Linked DNA regions of Homo sapiens: region 1 is linked to region 2. Evidence: fine-mapped expression QTL. A gene starts in region 2. The other region holds a variant in brackets. All regions are shown on one strand. Distances are from middle to middle.

The links. PIP is the estimated chance that this variant, and not a neighbour inherited with it, causes the effect.
Region 1: its variant is the best candidate, but not a certain one, in a credible set for the expression of AGTR1 in fibroblasts (GTEx, PIP 0.83).

Annotation. Positions count from the first base shown.
Region 1 is chr3:148,654,508-148,659,896 of GRCh38, forward strand. No RefSeq gene overlaps it. Among named protein-coding and RNA genes, the nearest start is that of AGTR1, 41 kb to the right of the region's middle. The variant A/G (reference allele first, on the strand shown) is at 2,807.
Region 2 is chr3:148,694,646-148,700,034 of GRCh38, forward strand. AGTR1 (angiotensin II receptor type 1) reads left to right here and starts at 3,258. Exons shown (of 3, transcript NM_000685.5): 1 at 3,258-3,482. It also overlaps the pseudogene RPL38P1.

The DNA.
Region 1 (5,389 bases), 40 kb before region 2:
GAACATGTGGTATTTGGTTTTCTGTTTCTACATTAATTCCCTTGAGTTAATGGTCTCCAGCTGCATCCACGTTGCTGCAAAGAACAAAATGTCATCCTTTTTATGGCTGCATAGTATTCCATTGTGTATACGTACCATATTTTCTTTATCCAGTCTGCTGTTGATGGGCACCTATATTGATTCCATGTCTTTGTTATTATGAATAGGGGTGTGATAAACATGCAAATGCATGTGACTTTCTGGTAGAATAATTTGTTTTCTTTTTAATATTTACCCAGTAATGAGTTTGCTGGGACAAATGGTAGTTCTGTTTTTCCTTTGAGAAATTTCCAAACTGCTTTCCACAGTGGCTGAACTAATTTACACCCTCACTAACAGCGTATAAGGAGTCCCTTTTTTCTGGAACCTCGCCAGCATCTGTTGTTTTTTGAATTTTTAATAATAACAGTTCTGACTGGTGTGAGGTGGTATCTCACGGTGGTTTTGATTGCATTTCTTTCATGATTAGTGATGTTGAGCATTTTTTTTTTTTTTTTTGAGATGGAGTCTCACTCTGTCACAGGCTGGAGTGCAGTGGTACAGTCTCAGCTCACTGCAACCTCCGTCTCCCAGGTTCAAGCAATTCTCCTGCCTCAGCCTCCTGAATAGCTGGGACTACAGGTGTGCACCATCATGCCCAGCTAATTTTTGTATTTTTAGCAGAGATGGGGTTTCACCATATTGGCCAGGATGGTCTCAATCTCTTGACCTCATGATCTTCCCACCTCAGCCTCCCAAAGTGCTGGGATTACAGGTGTGAGCCACCATGCCAGGCCTGAGCCACCAACCCCAGCCGAGCATTCTTTTATGTGGTTGTTGGCCACATATGTGTCTTCTTTTGAGAATTGTCTGCTCATGTTCTTTGCCCGTTTTTTAATGGGCTGTTTGGGGTTTTTGGCTTTTTGATTTGTTTAGATTTCTTATAGATTCTGCATATTAGAACTTGTCAGATGCAGAATTTGCAAATATTTTCTCCCATTCTGTAGGTTGTCTGTTTACTCTGTTGTTAGTTTCCCTTGCTGCACAGTATGCTTTAGTTTTAGGTTTCTAAATAGACAAACAATTTAGGTTTCTAAATAGACAAATAATTAATTTGTCTAGTTTTGTTTTTGTTGGCAATTGCTTCTGAAGACTTCTTGTCATGAAGTATTTGTCAAGGCCTGTGTCCAAAATGGTATTTCCTAGGTTGTTTTCTAGGGCTTTTATAGTTTTAAGTCTTAGATTTAAGTCTTTAACCCACTACTAGCTGATTTTTGTATATGGTGAAAGGAAGGGGCCCAGTTTCAATCTTCTGCATATGCCTAGCCAGTTATCTCAGAACCATTTATTGAATAGCATGTTATTTCCCCACTGCTTATTATGAATTTTCTCAAAGATCAGATGGTTGTAGGTATGTGGCTTTATTTCTGGGTCCTCTAACCTGTTCCATTGGTCTATGTGTCTGTTTTTTGTACCAGTACCATGCTGTTTTAGTTACTGTAGCCTTGTAGTATAGTTTGAGGTGAGGTAGTGTGATTCCTCTGGTGTTGTTCTGTTTGGTTAGATTGCTTTGGCTACTTGGCTCTTTTTTGGTTTGATATGAATTTTAGAATTTTTTTTCTAATTCTGTGAAAAATGACATTGGTAGTTTTTTAGGAATAGTATAGAATTTGCAAATTGCTTTGGGCAGAATGGCCTTATAACAATATTGATTCTTCCTATCCATGAGCATGAAATGCTTTTCCATTTGTTTGTGTCATCTCTACTTTCTTTCAGCAGTGTTTTATAATTCGTGCCATGGAGATCTTTCACCTACCTATTTAGCTCTATTCCCAGATATTTTATTCTTTTTGTGGCTGCTAAATTGTCACTTCCGAGGGACTAGGAGCCCAGAGATATTTTAATGTTTAATTTCACTTCTCATACTCACCTAGACTTATAGATGGTGCTCAATATGCATTTGTTGAATCTAATAAATTAGATTAGAAACCAGTTCTCTTAAAAGTGAAAACTTTTCTTGTATTTTACCCAAATTTCCCCTCAATGACATTTGGGTCTATACCTGCTCATGTGTCCAATCAATTCAGAATCTCATTATTCAAGAAAAGACCTCAGTTTTGTACTGTCAAAAGAAAAGATGTGTTTGAGATAATGTTCTTCAGTTTAAAAAAATTAAAGTTGTTAATAATTAATGTGTTCAAATCATTTTATCAGATATATGTGTATACGATATGATAGCATATAGTATATATATGTATATATATGCATTATCACTTAGGATATGTAGCTGCAGTATATTTTTAGCTTTGGAAGACAGGACTACTTGTAAGAAATTGTGAGAATTAACAAACAAATGGCTCAAAATATCATACACATATGAAAATTCCTAAAGGGAGAAAACTCTCCATTGGCAAAATATGTCTTGGGGAAATTATGGTTTTTTTCTTCCCCTGTAAAATCTTTGAAGCCATGGAAAATTCCAAACAACAGGTGAGAAAACTAAAAAGTAGCCACTTTACTACCATAAGAAGATATTGATGAAAGGTAGTAACGTCAGCATACACTTCAACATTATCAGCAAGGAAACTTTTTTCCCAAGAAATAATAGAAATAGAGATGAAGAAGGGTTATGTTATAAATCATATTTTGAATTGTGAATTTTTTCAGGTGACTAGACTGAAGGGTAGAAGATGCTAAGCCATTTGCCATTTAATCCATTTCATTTAAAGGATCACTAGCTATATTTAATGACATCCAAAAATAAACTCTTCAGATGCTGAAATACTAG[A/G]CTGGGAAGGCAGGCAGGGGAAGCAGGAAGGTTATTCTGGCTTTATTTCATTTTCTTGAAGGGCAAAGGCGGCTTCTCATTCATAAGAAGAAACTGACCTCAAACTGACAGAAGGTACAAAAAAAAAAAACAACTATACCAGGTCTATGGAACTAGAGTTGACAATTGATACCTATCCACAATAGCAGCAAATTATTTCCTTCTACAGAAATTCAAGACAGAATCCCCACCTCTAATGAAGTTGGAAATTGTAATGGTTATTAATTCGTCTAACTAATGTGAAATTGTATATAGCAAAGTACAAGCAGGGCAAGTACTTGATTTCAAGCAAACGGTTCTTAGTGATTGCATAATACACACTTCAAAGGACCTGAGACTCAACAGGATTTATTTCATTGAACACTTTCAACACCTATTGTAATTCAGCCTTTTTATTCAACAGTAGCTCAAGCACGTTAACATTGTCAAACTGCATAAAAACATTAAGTTCCGAAACTTTCTCCTTGTATTTTTTTATCTTGAATTCACATATGATTATCTTTTTTTTCTTCTTGATTTCAGGTACAAAAATGTCCACATAGATATACCTGTCAAAAATCTACCGTTAGTAATTAGGTAGCTACTACACAGTTGGATGGTTTAGCTAGAATCAGTATATGATATTTTTAAAACAATTTTTTAATGAGATATGGCTGTCTCTCTTACAACACTCTGAATATATCCTATTGCATTTTCTCCTTTCTAGAGCCCCTGTATTCTATCTACTGAAATCTCTGGCTTACTCATGTGGAATGCATTCAGCCTTATTGAGGTGGTAGCTGAATGTCAGAATCAGTAATTATCAGTGGGACACAAGATGGAGACATGACCTGCCAAAGAACATCATATTGTATCACTTATAGTACTTTGTCAAGTTGCAAATATAGAGGATCCTCACTGGAGGTTTGGCATTGATCCCCGTGGCAAGGGTGGATGGGAGCGAACAGCACATCTTGCAGGTTGAAAATTAATTCCACTGCGAATATGTGTCAATCCTTAGAAGTGTTGGTATCAAAAAAATGTTGAGAACTACTCTTCTAAATCCCACCCAACCACCCAGAGATATGCTTACAGCTTTGTTTCTCTTCAAGCACCTGGCATATAAGTGCTTAGAAACTACTGTTAAATAAACAAGTAAGTCAATGCATAAATAATTGAAAGTTTTCACATAATCTGAAAGTTTAAACATTTGCTTTACAGTCTAAAATTCCTGAAGTCATCATTGTGGAACAGATGATTTCACAATAAACACTGATCCTAAACAAAATAACATGAGATCTCTATCAGTGAAATAGTAAAATGAACATTAACTATTCGAAGGCTTAACTAAATGAGGACTCAATTTATTCAGACATCCTAACCTTGTTCCCCCAATAGCCATATCTCCCCTCTCCAAGAGGCCGCATTTGTGTACCTTCTCAAGCCATCATTTCTTTGATGGACCCATACTTGCTCTGGAAAAATCAGGAGCTTCAGGAAGGGTGGAAAGGATAACGATCTTTCTACTATCCATGCTCCCTCTATCAGCCAAGAGTTCCATTCACTTCCTCAGCCCTAATTTCAGACTTTAGTTAAACTGATTAGTGAGAAGTCAGCATGAGTAAAGGAATAAGTAGTTCCCCATGGCTGAGACAGCTAGCTGATCCTTAAACTTGGTGCTCCTCCCTTCCATAATATAAGTGGTTATTGAAAAGTTACTGTCAGTTAGGGTCTACGTTTCCTGACTTTTCTTGCATTTAAGAATGGTCGATGTGACTAGTTCTTGCCGGTGGACTATCAACAGAAGTGAGATGTGTTGCTCCTGTGCTAATAGAGTTTAAACAGAAGAGCCTTCTCCTCACCCCCGCTCTCCTCTTTTGCCAGCTGAATACCAGGGAGACAAAGTCTTAGAGAATAACGGAACCACAAAGTGGAAGAAATCTGGATCCTTGAGTCACTACATGGTGTAGAAGACTGGCACTCACCAGTCAGGAACACTACCACTGGTCTTTTACATGAATAAGAAATAAATTTGTGTTCTGTTAAGTCACTGAAATTTGAGGATGTATTTATGATAGTAGCAACAATTACACTAATGAGTACATTTCTCCACCTATTTACTTGATGCTCCAGTAATAACAACCTACGTGCAATTTCCCGGCTCCACCAGGCAGTTTCATGCCTTCATGTGTTTGCACATGCTGATCCTTCATAATTCTTAATTTTCTCTACCTATTTTCTCTCCTTTCTGGCACTTTTTCCTTCACTGACTCTTACTAATCCTTAAAAACTCAGCTCCTAGGCTTCTGTGAAGCATTACTCTGCCAACAGGCTCCATTCCTGCCATGTACTTTCCTAGTCTGTACATAATTCCACTTTTGCATATGTCACAATATTTTAGGATTCTCGGTTTATAAATATGTCAACCTTACAACATACACATTTGTCATATTTCTACCCTGTAAAGCTTCCAACAGAGTGGTGATACATAAAAGATGATTTATGACTGTATGCTAGGTTCCTATCTCATTAGGATTTTATTTTAAATTAATCTGATCCATGGAG
Region 2 (5,389 bases):
TCTTTAGAGAAATGTATATTAAGATCCTTTGACCATTTTTAATGGTGTTTTTATTATCTTTGTGTGTGCTTTATTATCTTTATATGTTCTATACACAAGTCCTTATCAGGTATATAATTTGCAAATATCTTTGCACATTCTTGGCTTTTTCTTTTCACTTTCTTGATACCCTTGGAAGTATAGATGCTGTTAATATTGATGAAATCAAATTAATTTACCTACTTTTTCTTGTATTTCTTATGCTTTTGGAGTTGTATCTAAGATGGCTTTGCATAACCCAAGGTAACAAAGGTTTACTCCTACGTTTTCTATTTAGTTTTATAATTTTTCTCTTAAGCTTGGGTCTATGATCCATTTTGACTTAATTTTTACATGTGGTATTATAAGGAGTCCAACTTCATTCTTCTGCATGCAGATATCCAATTATTCCAGTACCATTTGTAATAAAGATTACTCATTCTGCATTTTTTCAACCCTTTTCAAAATCTAGTGGCTCATAAATGTAAGGGTTTAGTTTGTGGACACAATTCTGTTCCATTGATCTTTCTATCTATTGCTATGCCAGTACCACATTGTCTTGTTTATTGTAATTTTGCAGTAAATTTTGAAATTGGTAAGTTTGTTCTTTTTCAGAATTGTCTTGACTATTCTGGGCCCCTCGCACTGCTACATGTTTTTAGGATAACTCCATTCATTTCTGCAATAAAAGCTTGCTGGGTTTTGATAGAGATTTTGTTTAACCTGTAGATCATTTGAAGATTAATGCCATTGTAACGATATTAAATCTTTCAATCCAAGAACATGGAATGTCATTCCATTTATTTAGGTCTACCTTATTTCAACAATTCTTTTTGTTTGTTTTCAGACTACAAGTTTTAGATCCTTTTGTTAAATTTATTTCTTAGGGTTTTTTTTGTTTTGTTTTGTTTTGTTGGTTGGTTGGTTTGTTTTGAGATGGAGTCTCACTCTGTCACCCAGGCTGGAGTGCAGTGGCACAATCTCAGCTCACAGCAACCTCTACCTCCTGGGTTCAAGCGATTCTTCTGCCTCAGCCTCCTCCTCCTGAGTAGCTGGAACTACAGGCATGCACCACCACGCCTGGCTTTTTTTTTTTTTTTTTCTTTTGCATTTTTAGTAGAGACAGGGTTTCACGATGTTGGCCAGCCTGGTCTCGAATCCCTGACCTTGTGATTCACCCACCTCGGCCTCCCAAAGTGCTGAGATTACAGGAGTGAGCCACTACACCAGGTCATTTCTTAGTATTTTTACTCTTTTGATCTATAGTAAGTAAAATTGTTTTTATCTTTGAATTTTTAAATTTTTAACACAGTTCAAATCAGTGTGTCTGATTTCATCTCCTTCTCTAACAAACCAGGGTGCCAGAACTGCTTCAGTTTCTCTGCCTTCTCTTTGTCTATGATGACTAATGTATGAAGGTATCTGCTGCATCAAACTTTAAACTTCACATTATCCTTATTTCTCTTGACCTTGACAGATCTGGCATCTTTTCACCTGGCTGTAAGCAGAAAGTCCTTGATCTCCTTAACTTTTTGAGGCATGGCAGCATGTGAGGCAGGGAGAGGACACAGACCCACACAGCAAGTGGTGAGAAGCCAACAGTGGAATTGTTTTCTTAATTCCATTTGTTGATTGTTTATTGCTAGTGTATAGAAATACAACTGATTTTTGTATATTGATCTTGTATTCTAAAAACTTGCTCAACTTGTTTCTTAGTTCTAATAGTTAATTAATTGATTCCTTAGGGCTTTTTAATACAAGATCATGTCATCTACAAATAGAAATTGTTTTACTTTCTTTCTAATCTGGATGCCATTTATCTTTTTTTCTTGTCCAATTGCCCTCACTAGAACCTTTAGTACAAAGTTAAATAGAAATGGGAAGACTAGACATTTTGTCTTGTTCCTGATCTTAGACATAAAAACGTTGTCTTCCGTTATTATGTGTGATATTAGTTAAGTTTTTCATAAATAAACTTCACAGTTTGAGGAAGTTCCTATTCCTAGTTTGTTGAGTGTTAGCATGAAAAAGTGTTGAATTTTGTCCAATAGTTTTTAAAAATTTTTTTAGACAATCATGTAGGCTTTGTCCATTTTTTACTTCTTTAAATTTATTTTTATTGATACACAATAGATGTACACTTTTTAGGTACATGCAATAATTTAATGCCCCTCACTATAAATTCGGAGCTGCCTCCTCGCCGATGATTCCAGCGCCTGACAGCCAGGACCCCAGGCAGCAGCGAGTGACAGGACTTTTTAGGTACATGCAATAATTTAATGCATTCATATAAAGATCAAATCAGTGCAATTGGCATATCCATCACCTTAAATATTTGTCTTTTCTTCATGCTAGAAACATTCAAGTTATTTTCTCCTAGCTACTCTGAAATATACAATAGATTACTGTAAACTACAGTCACCCTACTCACCTATCTAACATTAATTGATTTTTGGTAAACTAATCTAATCTTGCTTTCTGGCATCAACCTCACTTGACCATGGTGTATAGTCCCTTTCATATGTTATTGGATTCAATTTGCCTACATTTTGTTGAGAATTTTTATCTATACTCTTAAGAAATATTGATCTGTAGTCTCGTGATGTCTTTATCTGGTTTTGTTATCAGGGTGATACTGGCCTCATAGCATGAGTTGGGAGATCATCCTTACTCTTCTATTTTTTGGAAGAGTTTGTGAAGAATTGATATTATTTCTTCTTTAAATATTTATTGGGTTTTTAAAATACATTTTTAAAATGCAACTTGGGTAGCATGTCCAATAGGAACAAATGAGTGTCCACCCTTGAATTTCATAACCCTGGAATTAATCCATGTAATCTATGATCCACAACTGTATTACCAAAGTTCGAGTTACTCATAGGAAAGAGAAAGAAGTTCTCTAATTCGTCCTTAAAAGTTTTCCAAGTTCAGAAAAAAAAAATGTTGAAGAACACGAATCTCCGCAGGAAATGATACTCCTGTACCCCCAGCTCGCTCTCCCTCACGACCCCTCGCTAGGCGGGGTTCGGGACCAGGTGAACGCTGATCTGATAGTTGACACGGGACGACTGTGGCATCATCCTTGCTGCCGTCAATATCCCGAGAGGGAGGAGGTTGGGCCGGGAGGGTCTCCCGGGGCGGGGCGGAGGAGGAGGGAATGCAAAACAGAGCCTCGTCCCCGGAACCCAAGAAGCAGCAACGCCCCTCACTATAAATTCGGAGCTGCCTCCTCGCCAATGATTCCAGCGCCTGACAGCCAGGACCCCAGGCAGCAGCGAGTGACAGGACGTCTGGACCGGCGCGCCGCTAGCAGCTCTGCCGGGCCGCGGCGGTGATCGATGGGGAGCGGCTGGAGCGGACCCAGCGAGTGAGGGCGCACAGCCGGGACGCCGAGGCGGCGGGCGGGAGACCCGCACCAGCGCAGCCGGCCCTCGGCGGGACGTGACGCAGCGCCCGGGGCGCGGGTGAGTCCGCGCGGACCGCCAGGCATGCTTGGGGGACTTCAAGGGCGGGGTGCTAAGTTTCATGTCACGGTGTCCTAACTGCTGGCTCTATACTGGGAAGCTCTCGGGGACCAAGGAAAGAGCGACCGTAGTTCTGGTCAGCGCCTGCCCCTGGAGCTGGCCACACTTTCCCAAATCAGGTGAGGGGCTTCTGGAATGGGAGGGAACAAGGTAGGTTTGTTTGCCACGTGCCTCGAAATTCTCAATCCATTTTAACCAAACTCTTCCGAGTGCAAGGAAGAAATCTACAGAAATAAGATGCAATTCAATAAACTTTCTTCCTGAGGCTTTTAGTTAACTCTTGTATTTTAGCCATCATCTGAGCGGGAAGCCGGTATGACTCTGCAAGGCGTTCGTTTAAAAGTTGTGCTACTTTTGAGGTGAAGTTAAGAGTGTCTCCATCCACGCCCTCTGCTTCCCAGTCAATGTCCCTGCACTGCTCACGTCCCTTTAGCTCTCTCCCTGCAAACCATAGCGGTGGGTCCTAGACACGGGACATCGCTCCAACCTTGGCCAAACTCTCCCACCCTCAGGGTTCCCAGATGTCCTTTGAATAATCAAACTGAGGAAGGAGAAGCAAGATGTCTCCACACCCCAATCCCTACAGCCTTAGCCAATGCATGTGTGTAACTGAGACAGAATTTTAGCAAAAGGTCTCCTGCTTCCAGGACTAAACAGAGCCTCTGGCAGGCCACTGCCCGACACCCAACTCCATCCTCCAATTTTCTTAAATGTCCAGGTAAACATCTCCATAGTGCCAGCCTGCTATAGTCTCCCGAAGACCTCAGCAATTCTTCCCCAAAGCGTCTCCTTCTGCACCGTTTTTTTCTTTGGGCAACCATTTGTGACCTGGCTATTGAGCCCACCTGGGCCTCTTCTCTTTGTTTGCTGATAGCCTCGTTAAGTATTAAAAACCTACTCCCCCCCTTCAGGAGCCCTCTTTTAATGAAAGTTTGGGTACTGGGATCAGATTTGGGACTTGGCTACATTTATTTCCTGTGTCATTCTGAGAAGAGAAAGTAATAGAGGCAAGAAATTTGGCACCCTATTGATCTATTTTATTACTTTGTTGAGCAACTTGTGCTTCCCGCTGAAGATGCTGCATCCCAACATGATTCTCTTATTATTAGTTACCACCTGAGGGTTTTGGATCTCCAGGTGTTTATTTCACATAGCATATGCTTTAACCCCCTTATAAGTCTTCTCTAAGGAAGAAACTGCCATACTTCCCTTGTCTTCTCCGGTGTTTCCCTAGCTATAAAGGCCCCACCTGCATAACCTGTCCTCAGGCTGTGATGTATTCCCGGGTGCCCTGGTACCTTCTCCTTCCTCTCCACCACCCTTCCTGACAGTGCAGGGGCAGGAAAGCATGGGGAGAAGGGAAATGGAGACTCCCACTTAACTTGCTGTGTGATAGTAAGAGCATTATTTCACAACTCTGAACCTCAAGTCTCTGCCCATAAGGTTCCCTCCAGTGATATAATTCCTTAATTTCTTTTGTTTTGGTTATTGCTTTAAAATAAAAGTCTAAGCTTAAGGCTAGGTTATAGAAACTGCCCATCATAATTGCTAGGTCTCAACATTTGCTTAAGTTTTGTGATTCTTAGTTTCAAGTCTGTTACCCACTCTCTCTCCCCGCCACCTTTTTTCCCCCTGACTTCATTGTTCTTTGTTCCCATCCTGAGGCCTTGATTTCTGGTTCTGCTCTTCTTTGACCTTAAACTGAATCAACTCTTCCATCATCCAACTCAGAATAAAATTGGTTTTCTTCCACCGGTTCCACTGATGCCAATGGAAGACTTGTCTTCCTTGCGATTTGCAAAATGTCTTTCAGTCACAGGTGCTGCGGCAATGCTGCTGTCCCACAG